Regions from separate parts of the Homo sapiens genome. Here region 2 is linked to region 1. Evidence: fine-mapped expression QTL. A gene starts in region 1. The other region holds a variant in brackets. All regions are shown on one strand. Distances are from middle to middle.

Region 1 (5,317 bases):
GTTTATAAAATGGGGACTAACTGCTGGGTGTTGAGTTGAGGAATGACACAATATGACCTATGACATGTTTTAAAGGGATCACTCTGGCTACTGTTTTGAGATTACTCAAGGGTAGGAGAGGACAATGATAGAGGCAGGGTGAGTAGCTAAAGTGCTATTATAGTAATCTAACGTAGAGATGAAAGTCACTGAGTCTAGGTTGGCTGCAGTAAAAATCATAAGAAGTAGCTGAATTCCTGTTGTCATTTGAGAGTAAACAGGATTTCCTCAGAGATTTGGTTGTGAGGTGTGAGAAAAAGAGCGGAATCAAGAACAACTTCATGATTTTTAGCCTGACCAACCCTAAGGATGAGGTTGCCGTGAACTGAGAAGGAGAAGGCTGAATGTGGGGCAGATTTTAGGGAGAACCATAGCTCAGTTTGGGACACACTGAGTTTGACATGTTTATTAAATACGCAAGTTGAAATGTTGAAAAGGCAGTTAGATAGATGAGTCTGGAGTTCTGGAGAGATGTCTAGTCAGGAGAAGTACATATGGGAGCTATCAACATGGTGTTTAAAACCTTGTGACCAGATGAAATTACTAAAGGAGTGAATATTGATAGAAATAAATAGAGAAAAGTAGATCAACACTTGACAGAATTGGGGAAAATAGGTTATTTCATGACATTATTTAGAAGCATCCCTTTTCACACTATGATATAAAAGTTATAGAAATATAGGTAAGCAGATCACTTTCATAGAAAAAAATTTTCAGAATTCTGAACTTGACCATTTTACAGGCTAGAAGAAGTGCTTTTAGGGCATCAACTATATTTCTTAACCTTTGGGCCAAAACCCTACAAACCCATCCAACCTGCTGGACTTGCTTTTCTTCTGAATAACCTAATTCTCCAATATAACATCCATGGATGGCACAGAAACAATACTAGGGAAGGTGAGCAAGTCTGTTGTAGGTATTTTCAGCATAGTTCTTCCAAATGTGGACATTAGAGTTTGTAAATAAAAGATGTTCATTTTATTACAGGAATCGGAATTCCTATTATTCTAAACTCTTAATAATTTCTTGATTAATTGAAAACTAAGTGTAAGGTTTTCGCCAACTTCTAAACTCCCCTGGCTGCATGAAAACTAATTCCTTTATCATTCTTCATATGACCTATTCACCAAAAGTTATATCTTATGAAACGTATATTATCAATATAGTTCTCTCTAATAAAGCATTAAAATCCAAAGTTATATCCTGATCCACTTTGGCGGGGGGGTCTTCAAACAGTACAGCTCTTTGAATAATGATCATTTTGTAATGTAAATAAGGTAATGATCACTTATTAATGATCACTACTCTTAGGCAGCAGAATATCTCATGAAGCTTATGGAACACGGTTATATGCAGGAAATATTCCTTCCCTCCATATGCTGCGGGTGGAAAAATTTATTAGTGGATACATCTGTGGGTCCACAATACAATGCTAAGTGATGCTCACTTGAGACAATGCTTTTTTAATAAAAAAAATCCATCAGGACCTGGTGCAGTGGGGTGGGGTGGCTCAAGCCTGTAAGCCCCCCAGCTTGGGAGGCTAAGGCAGGCGGATGGCTTCAGGCCAGAGTTGGAGACCATCCTGGACAACAAAGCCAGAGATGCTGTCTCTTAAAAAATAATAATAATAATTAGTGGAGCGCAATGGCCTGTCTGTTGTTCCAGCTACTCTACTAGGGAGACCGAGACAAGAGGATCTCTTGATTGCCCAGAAGTTCAAGACTGCGGTGAGCGATGACTGTGCCTCTGCACTCCAGCCTGGGCAACAAAGTGAGCTCCTGTTGCTTAAAAAATAACAATTAAAAAAAATCAATCAGGCATACATTCAAGAGGTAATAGGATAGCCTTATCTGTTATCTAAGGGCTGCATATCCAAGTAAGGGCTACTTCTTCACAAGGATGAGGACAACAGTATTTTGCTCTTATAAGGCAGAGACCCTGTCTGGTTCAGATATGCAAAAATCACTAATTTTGAATCTCTGGTAAATTTCTTTCAAGATCTGTAACTCTAAGTAAATCTCTTAATATAACTGAGTTTCAGATTCTTCATCTACAGAAGGGGATGACAAAACTTGCCCAGGAATGTGGTGAGGGCCACATGAGATAAGGCGAGTGAAAGGTGTTTTGCAACTGTCAAGTTCTGTACACATGTTAATTATGTAACAGATGTTAAACATAGTATTACCTGTATGACTATATTGTCAGTAATTTTGACCAATTTAAGCTTGCTCAGAAAGTTCAGGCTTTTAGAAATTGGAAGACCCGGAGATTAAGCTGGATGTCTGGGTTCCAGGCAAATGGTGAAATGACAGAAAATGTGTTTTGTTCGCTTTGACCCAAGAAGGTCATTTGTTGCTCTGTTGTTTGTTGCTAGTGGTCAAAAGCTGACCCCAAGCAATCCCAGCTCCTTGAAAGGTTTTTTCTTTTTGTACCGACACTATCATTCCCGCCCTTCGTCCCCAACTCCTTTAGTCCCCTAAGGAGTGAGGGGGGTACACATTTCTGCTCGGTAACCCCTCCAATGCCTGAAGGGGACGATGCCGTGACGTTGCTCTGTCGGGACACCTCTTCCCTCCCCCGCCCGCGGTCGCCAGGTTCCCCCGCGGCCCGCGCTGTCCCCGCTGCGGCCCCGACCGCGGCGCGCCACGGCGCAGGCTCCGCGGCCCGAGCAGGCGCGTCAGCCGAGCTCGGCGGTGGCGCGGGCGGCTGGGACGCAGCTGCCCCCGCTCGGCGCCCGCTGCACCCTTAGCAGCCACTGCCACCTGGGCCCGGAGCCTCCACGATCTCGCCCGGCGATTGTGGGCAGGGGCGCCTCCGGGTAAGTGCCAGGAGCTCCACTTAGGAGGAGGGGACGCGGGTTGGGGCGGCGACGGTGGTCTGAGGACGGGAATAGACGCCTTTGCGGAAACAGCGGGTCAAGCCCGGGGCGGCGGAGCGCGAGGAGCACTGCGGCGTGCCCGGGAGGACGCGCGCTGCCCTGCGCGGGAGAGGGGCGCGGGGCGCCTGGCAGCGGCAGCCGGGTCCCCGCTGCGGTGGCGCCCGCGGAGACGCTCCGGGTGGAGAGATGCAGAGGGCCGGGGTAATTAGGAAACGCAAGGTTGGCCAGGAGGGCTCCTTGCGTTGTTTTGTTTATGAGGATCCTCCAGTCAATGCAGCTGTCCCCCTTGAAAGATTGGGGGTGAGGACAGAGCAGAGTGGTGAATTTCTCTGTTTTTCGAAGCGTTAGGGGGGCTCGGCCCTCCTTTTTGCGGGGGCAAGGATGTGAAAGTGGGAGAAGTACCTGCTGCTGTGGGCAAGGTGTCTGGAAGCAGGTGCCGCTGTCGGATGGGGGAAGGGAGCGTCCAATGTTGTGAAGTTGCCAGAGGAGAACCTTGTGTTGTTGCTGTTGGTCTGATGAGCCCCCTCTGTTGTCTTCAATTTAAAGTACCCAGGGAGAAGCCCCTCTGGCTTGCCTGGAGTGTGTGTAAAAGATAAATATGGGGGGAAGAATCCTGGGGGGGGGGGGGGAAGATGAAAAACATGACATAAGGAGAAGCAAATTTCTGAGGGTGAGATGGGAATTAAGTTAGCGTTGAAGAATATGACAGGTCTTTTACTCTGCGGAAAACAATGAAAGAGAAACAATTTATGGTTTGGAAATGAAGGTTGCAGAAGAGTTTGAACTTCTCTAGTGTAGGTAGAGGCTTAATTATTTTTTATTTATCAGAATCTCTGGCAAGAATATGGTTCTGATTTGAGCATGAAAATGTTATTAAAATATGGCTAGGACGATAATTTGAAAAAAATGTAACAACACTTGTTTTATTTCTTGTTGTAGAATTTCTGAAGTAATCTTTTTGATGACAAATGTTAGTAGCAAATAAGTAAGAAAGCTTTAAAGCTAACTTAAGAGGCACCTTTTTGGGGCAAAAAGGTAGCTTGCCAATGTAATGTGTTTAAATAAAAAAAGCAATGAATTTTGAATGTGGAACTCTTTGATATTAACTTTTTCTTTTATCTGTCTTTTTTAATACTTAGAATTTCTTTTTCTTTAAAATACATTATTTTTGAAAAAATATACATAAGAACTTCAAACAATATAAAAATTTAAAAAGAAAAAGATACTTCCAAAGTACTAGCCGAAGATAATCATTTTAACGCTGTGTTAAACCATGCTTCCAGATATCTTTCTGAACATATTTTTGATATACTGTGCAATTCAATATCAATTTATAATTTTGTGTAGCTATAGAATCAGAAATTTTATACAGTAACCTATTATATCTCGTTGGCGGTCTTGTTTTCTATGTGCCATTATTTAAACTGACTTTTACTGCTATATAAAAAAGACTTTACAACTACTATATAAAAAATACTAAATATGTTGTGAAGTATTACCACATAGGACTGAGCAATGAGGATTTGATGTACAAATGTACTTGCCCTTTGGGTAGTAATGCTTATACTCTTTAAAGGGACAGTCATATAGTTATCATTTTCTTCATAAATGTAAACATTTTCTTGTTCTCTCTTGTAGATCGATCTTCTGAAATTCAAGTTTTCAAGATGAAGTTTTTATTGACAACTGCCTTTTTAATTTTAATTTCCTTGTGGGTGGAAGAAGCCTATTCTAAGGAAAAGTCTTCAAAGAAAGGGAAGGGGAAAAAGAAGCAGTATCTATGCCCATCGTATGTTCTTCATGTCTTATATTCTTATATGGAGAAATGTTATTGCGTGTTTTATAAAAGTAAGGTGGTTTATGAAGACACACATCAACAAAACTTTTCATATCGGAATGTATATCCATCTGTTACAGAGACAGAAAATGATAGGGTGAGGAGAGGTTTAGAATGTAAGAATTAATTCCCAATGTTCAAGGTGGTTTTATAGTTTTCTTTTTTTAAATCATGCCATGGGTTTATATAATTTTTATACACTGTTTACAAAAGTAGAAAAAGTCACTATTTTTTTCTTATGCTAAATGTGCTGTGCAACTTTAATTGGATACTGATATACTGTGTTTTGAGCAAATACCAGTTCAAAAAGTTTTTTTTTAAAAAAACCCTAAAATATTTAATAATATTTTATTTAAAAGTCAGATAGGTAACTGTGATCTTAAGGTCAGTTCATATGTATGCATGGCAAAAGGAAATTCATATGATAGATCAATTTTCTAATTTAGTAATTGTAAATAGGTTATATTAGGAGATTAGGATATTTTGTAGAAAGCAGGTCATTAAATTTGAAATTACTTGAAAACACAAATTCTAAATCCAACACATCCCCCACAAAAGACAAA
Region 2 (5,389 bases), 400 kb before region 1:
AGAAAGGCAAAGTCACATTCCTTTCCTTCCACATCCCCATGCCATTCTAGAAAGTCCAGCAAATATGAATTTTGCTTTTTCCATTTCCATAAGCTCTTTGTTCACCAAAAATTTATGTTAATTGCTAGGGAAAGGGGCTACCCATAAGCACTGGGAAAACAATTCATGGTTTAATATAAATAATAAATTCAGCAGTAGCCACTTTACTCAGGATGTATACCACCATGAAACATTACTGCAAATTTTTGCAGTTATAAGTACATTTTGTTAGAGGATTATGTAAAAAGGAAGACAATTGGAAAGGATTTACTGTTAACTAGGGAAATACAAATCTAGAAAGTTATAAAGTTAAAATTAAACTCTTGGAAGCTTTTTGAATCAGAAACAGAAAAGGCTTATTTGCAGTTGTGAGGAAAAAGTGAATTTAGTGTTCATCAAAATTTCTCTTCTATTACAAGTGTTGTCTTTAATTTCCAATATACTCTTACATAGGCAAGCTCTCTTCACTCCAAATTAATGTGTTCTGTTCTACCTTTTACATTTACTTTTTATTAAAGAGTTCCTCTTCTTAGCAACCTGATAATTTAGTGAATCTAAGAAGTCTATCAGATCAGTTGTCTAGAATAACATAAACAAAGGAAATAATTCCTAAATTAAACACTTCAAAATTTTCACTTCTCAATCAGTTTTGTGCGTGAAGGGGGAGTGCATCGCATAGACAAATATATTGAGACAATACTAGAAATCATAGCAACCTTAGAACCTCTTTAACTAAGGCCCCTTGAGGTTAATTAAATTGCTTTCGGTCAGATACCAGTTCAAGCCTAAAACAGAAGTTTGCTGCTGGTGCTAGTGCCTTAACAGTTCAAAGGAACATCCTACAGAGCTGGGACTCAGACTTCTGTAGAGGGAACTTGAGCCATCTGGCACTGATACCTCTGAGCTGGCATGATGAAGCTAGTTCTTGAAATACAGAAAAGATTGGAAACTGGTAGCAACTGCTGTTACTCAAACCAAATGCTGAGATGAAGAGCGAATTATTAGAGCAAGCAATCTGGAAGGTGCTTGTCTCTTCTTCACTTCCTTTAATGCTCCCTATTGGCAGGACCTAACAGGGAGTCAGCGGGCAAAGGAAAAGAATGGCTTGCAGAATTCCAGCCATAACAATCATAAAGAAAAGAACAGAGGATAGGTCTGGAGCTTATAGTACTTAACAATCGGCACATTCAAAGAGGCATTCGACTTCCCAGATGACACTGCAGTTGGGACCAAAATAATGTATCTGTTAAAAATGTAAAAGAGGAGTATGACTGTGGGCATGCAAGCTGCAGTGTCTGCAGTAACCACTTCTGAATCTAGAGATCAATGCAGTTTAGTCATGGAGCTGTGACACATACAAATTACAGCTCAAGAGCCAAAAGTGATTAAAGAGGAATTTCTTCTTATGACCTCTTGGATGACATTAAAGTGACTGCAAATAAAAAGTCTTTAGAAACACCCATTAAAGTACCCTTTGTTTCCATTCCACTTTCCTGGCAGGTTTCTTTCTCGTGCATGCTCCCTCCCCGCCCAAAAAGAAAAAAAAATCGTACTCTACTCCCAGTTCATGATGCTTTCATTTCTTCTCTTTCCCGCTCCTTATATCATTTTGCATCAACTATTAATTATGATTACTTATTAATTAACATCTCTTCCTTCAATACATTGTTATTTTTCAATGTGATCAATTGATGTATGAACAACCCCAGTTGCTCACTCCTCTCTATGAATATGTTCTTTGGCACGAAATTTTATAGCCCCCGCTACCCTCACCCTAAGCTTGGCCATGTTATTTGCTTTAGCCACTGAAATTTTGGAAAGTGGGACATAAGCAGAGGGTTGGGAAATAGTTTGACCGACTGGGTTTGTTCTCATTCTTGCTCTATGACAGCACTATAAGAATACATCCAGGCTAGCCTGCTGGAGGATGGGAGATTGTCAGTTCAGATATGGCTGCTGACCTAGCTGGCAGCCAGTGTACACCAGACCTGTACATCAAACCACTCAAGATGAGAATATCCCCACCAAGCCTAGCCTAAATATCTGGCCGTAGATTGATGAGCTAAATGAATTCTTATTATGGTAAGTTCCTGAGATTTGAGATGGTTTGTTATACAACAGGGAACTGATAGGCTTATTCTTCAAGAGGAGCAAAACAGGGATGATTGCTATTCTCTTCAATGGGTTGAGGAAAGAAGAAATTATGTGAACATTTATACACTAATAATTTATTCTGTCATATTTCAGTCAGATTAAAGCAAACAGCCAAAAACAAG[G/A]ACAAAGTCCAAGGTAAGAGACTGATGATAAGTGGCCTGTTTACAAGGAAAATAAGATCACTAGCTCTACTTACAGCTGATTCAGAATAACTTCATTTTTAAAGCCTAAAATTTTATAGTCAAGCTCTTGAGTGCAATTTCCTTAACATTTTCTAAACCATACAGAAAATCATAAAGAAACAATATTTCTTTGTTTGAGTTTCCTTTTTAGGAGTTAGGTCTTATTTTAAAAATATTTTCTAGCCTGTTTAGGCTCTTATTTAAAATTATCTACTTTTCTCAAAGTCTTTCTCATACTTGAGATATCCAAAATATTGAATGAGTGATGTAAACTATACCAGATAAACTATGAGTCTATATTTTTACCCTGATTCAGTCAGTTTCCAAGGAGAACTTTGAACAACTAAAAATGTGTATTACTATAATCTCTCTGAAATATTTCTTATTAATTTTTTGGGGGGAAAATGAGTCATTCTGAGCCAAAAAAAAAAAAGGTTAACCAGACACTTTCCACTCCTAACTTGAGTTGGCGATATCAGCAGATTCAAATTACCAGCAATGGGAAGATATAGGAAGATGTAGGTACCTACCAATGAGCTTACCTTCCCAGTGCTCTATATAACCTCACTTCTATAGCCCAAAGTATTAAAAAGAAGAAAAAATAATAATTCAGGCTTACTATTTAAAAATACAGTGATTCTGGCCGGGCACGGTGGCTCACGACTGCAATCCCAGCACTTTGGGAGGCCGAGGCGGGTGGATCACGTGAGGCCAGGAGTTTGAGACCAGCCTGGCCAATGTGGTGAAACCCTGTCTCCACTAAAAATACAAAAATTAGCTGGGCATGGTGGCGGGCGCCTGTAATCCCAGCTACTCGGGAGGTTGAGATGGGAGAATTGCTTGGACCCAGGAGGCAGAGCTTGCAGTGAGCCAAGATTGCACCACTGCATTCCACCCTGGGTGACAGAGTGAGACCCTGTCTCAAAAAACAAATAAAAATACAGTGATTCTGAGAGGCCTTCCCTTTCCACACCACCTGCTACTTGTTTGATAGCTCTCATCCCATTTTCCTCAACTGCCACATATGGCCAGGACTTCCACAGTGTATTAAACATCTTCTTTGGACAAGAGAAATTTCACTGAAGCAATGAGTGTAGAAGTTATTAGCATGAATTGAAGACTGATGCTGGCACACAAATAGGGAGACACATCAATATAATGACCTAATGAATCTAGAAATAGCTTCAAGAAGTTATGGAAAAGTAGATGTGATAAAAGTTGCATTTCAAATCAGTGAGCAAAGTATTTAATAGAATTGAGACAACTATGTAGCTATTAGGAAAACATTAAAGTTGGATGCATAATTAGAAACTCTCCTCAGGTTTATCAAGATTTTAACTGTGAGGAAATAAAACAACAAAAGATAGAGACAAAAGCAGGTAAGCACTTTAAAATATCATCTCAGAAATCTTCCAAGTTTGATACATAAATTCAACTAAAATAAATGATTTTTCATTAGAAAAGCATTTGTCATAAGACAGATGAAATTGTGAGAAAAATCATTTGCAATACATATCATAGACAAAAGGCCAATACTCCTAATATATGAAGACTTCTTGTAAACCAAAAGAAAAATAAAGAATAGTATATAGTATGCTTTCATCTGTGCAAAAAAGAATACAATATATGTGGAATATCTCTGGAAATAGATATAAGTAACTATTGCCATTGTCTGTCCCTACGGATTGGAAATCGGTGATCAGGGGTTCAGAAATTGAAAAGGGCTTTTTCACTCTATAGCCCATTCCACTTTTAAATCATGAACTCTATTAATACATTATCTATTTGTAAATAAATAAGCAATAATTGAATTAAACACTTTTATTTGTAACAATTATATAAAAATATAGTTTACATACTTATTTAAAAACTAGTAACATTATATTTTAATCAGGATTCTTGATGCTTGCTACCAGACAAACCCCAAAATCTCAAAGCTTAAGAGACACAGGGTTTATTTCTCACTCCATAGAGACTGATATGTGTTGGATGGCCCTAATGTAAGTAATATCCAGCCATTCGGAACATGTGCCTTTAAGACTGGTTGCATTAAAAGAGACTCACCAATTCTAAACTATCCCAACCCAGACCTGACACAAGTCATTTCTGCTAACAGTCCATTGGCCAGAACCACTAGCATGGTTCTCACCTGACAACTGCAAGGAAGGAGGTGAAAGGAAAAGCATGGATAGCATATCATGACTTGCATTTTTCACACTGCAGCAAATTCATTTTTAAATAAAGGTTTTAATAATTAAAAAGCCTCATATTTGGTATAACCTCTTTTTGTGTGCTTTTGTTTTCACCTTGTTAAAAAGGCATATTAAATATTCCCAATGAAGAATTACATCTATGAGACCTGTGGGGTGTCATAGAATATCTAGATATATCCTCTCCTAACTTTGACCTTGCATAGAAATATGGGCAAATATACTATTGGCCAATCCAAATGCGAATACGCTTTGACATTTTTAAGCTTAGTCATTTTTTAGCTTTTCCAGGTACAATTAAACAATTGTAGTCTACACAGTCATTAACCAAACAGTGTTTGGAGACAGATGAGCTCATATTATCCATTTTGTCTGCATCCTTCAGCCAACTTTTTTACATGTACAGCCCATGAAGGCCACTAAGTGTGTTCTACATCCACAAATTACAAAGTCAAATGGGAAAGCCAGTGCAATGTTCTGCTATTTTTATCCTGGAAAGAACTGTTTGTATTCATGCTTAATTTTTGTCTCTTAGTTCTACTCCAGGTCAGTTTTTGTCAAACTATATTTTTTCACTTTCCAGCAAGAAAAATGAGGTCTGCTTCTTAAAAGTAAAAAGCAGTGGAATATGTTACTAGATGGCTTCTGCATTGTTCATTTAAGTACTACGCGATGAAATATAGACATGATTTAGCAGTGTAATTTAGTTTCTCATCATTCTGTGTAAGTATTTACTTATGAGAAGGATTCCTATAACCAATTCTGAATAATGCCAGCTGTCCAAAAGAAAGACTCAGGAGACAA

Which allele goes with the higher level. Positions count from the first base shown, and alleles are read on the strand shown. Sizes are in standard deviations (SD) of each study's normalised expression.
As copies of A replace G in region 2, the expression in adrenal gland of the gene that starts at base 2,710 in region 1 goes down (moderate effect, 0.54 SD a copy in GTEx).

The links. PIP is the estimated chance that this variant, and not a neighbour inherited with it, causes the effect.
Region 2: its variant is fine-mapped to the expression of GLRB in adrenal gland (GTEx, PIP above 0.99).

Annotation. Positions count from the first base shown.
Region 1 is chr4:157,073,441-157,078,757 of GRCh38, forward strand. GLRB (glycine receptor beta) reads left to right here and starts at 2,710. Exons shown (of 10, transcript NM_000824.5): 1 at 2,710-2,857; 2 at 4,556-4,706. The coding sequence starts at 4,585. RefSeq lists a silencer at 1-111.
Region 2 is chr4:156,671,748-156,677,136 of GRCh38, forward strand. No RefSeq gene overlaps it. Among named protein-coding and RNA genes, the nearest start is that of LINC02272, 32 kb to the left of the region's middle. The variant G/A (reference allele first, on the strand shown) is at 2,316.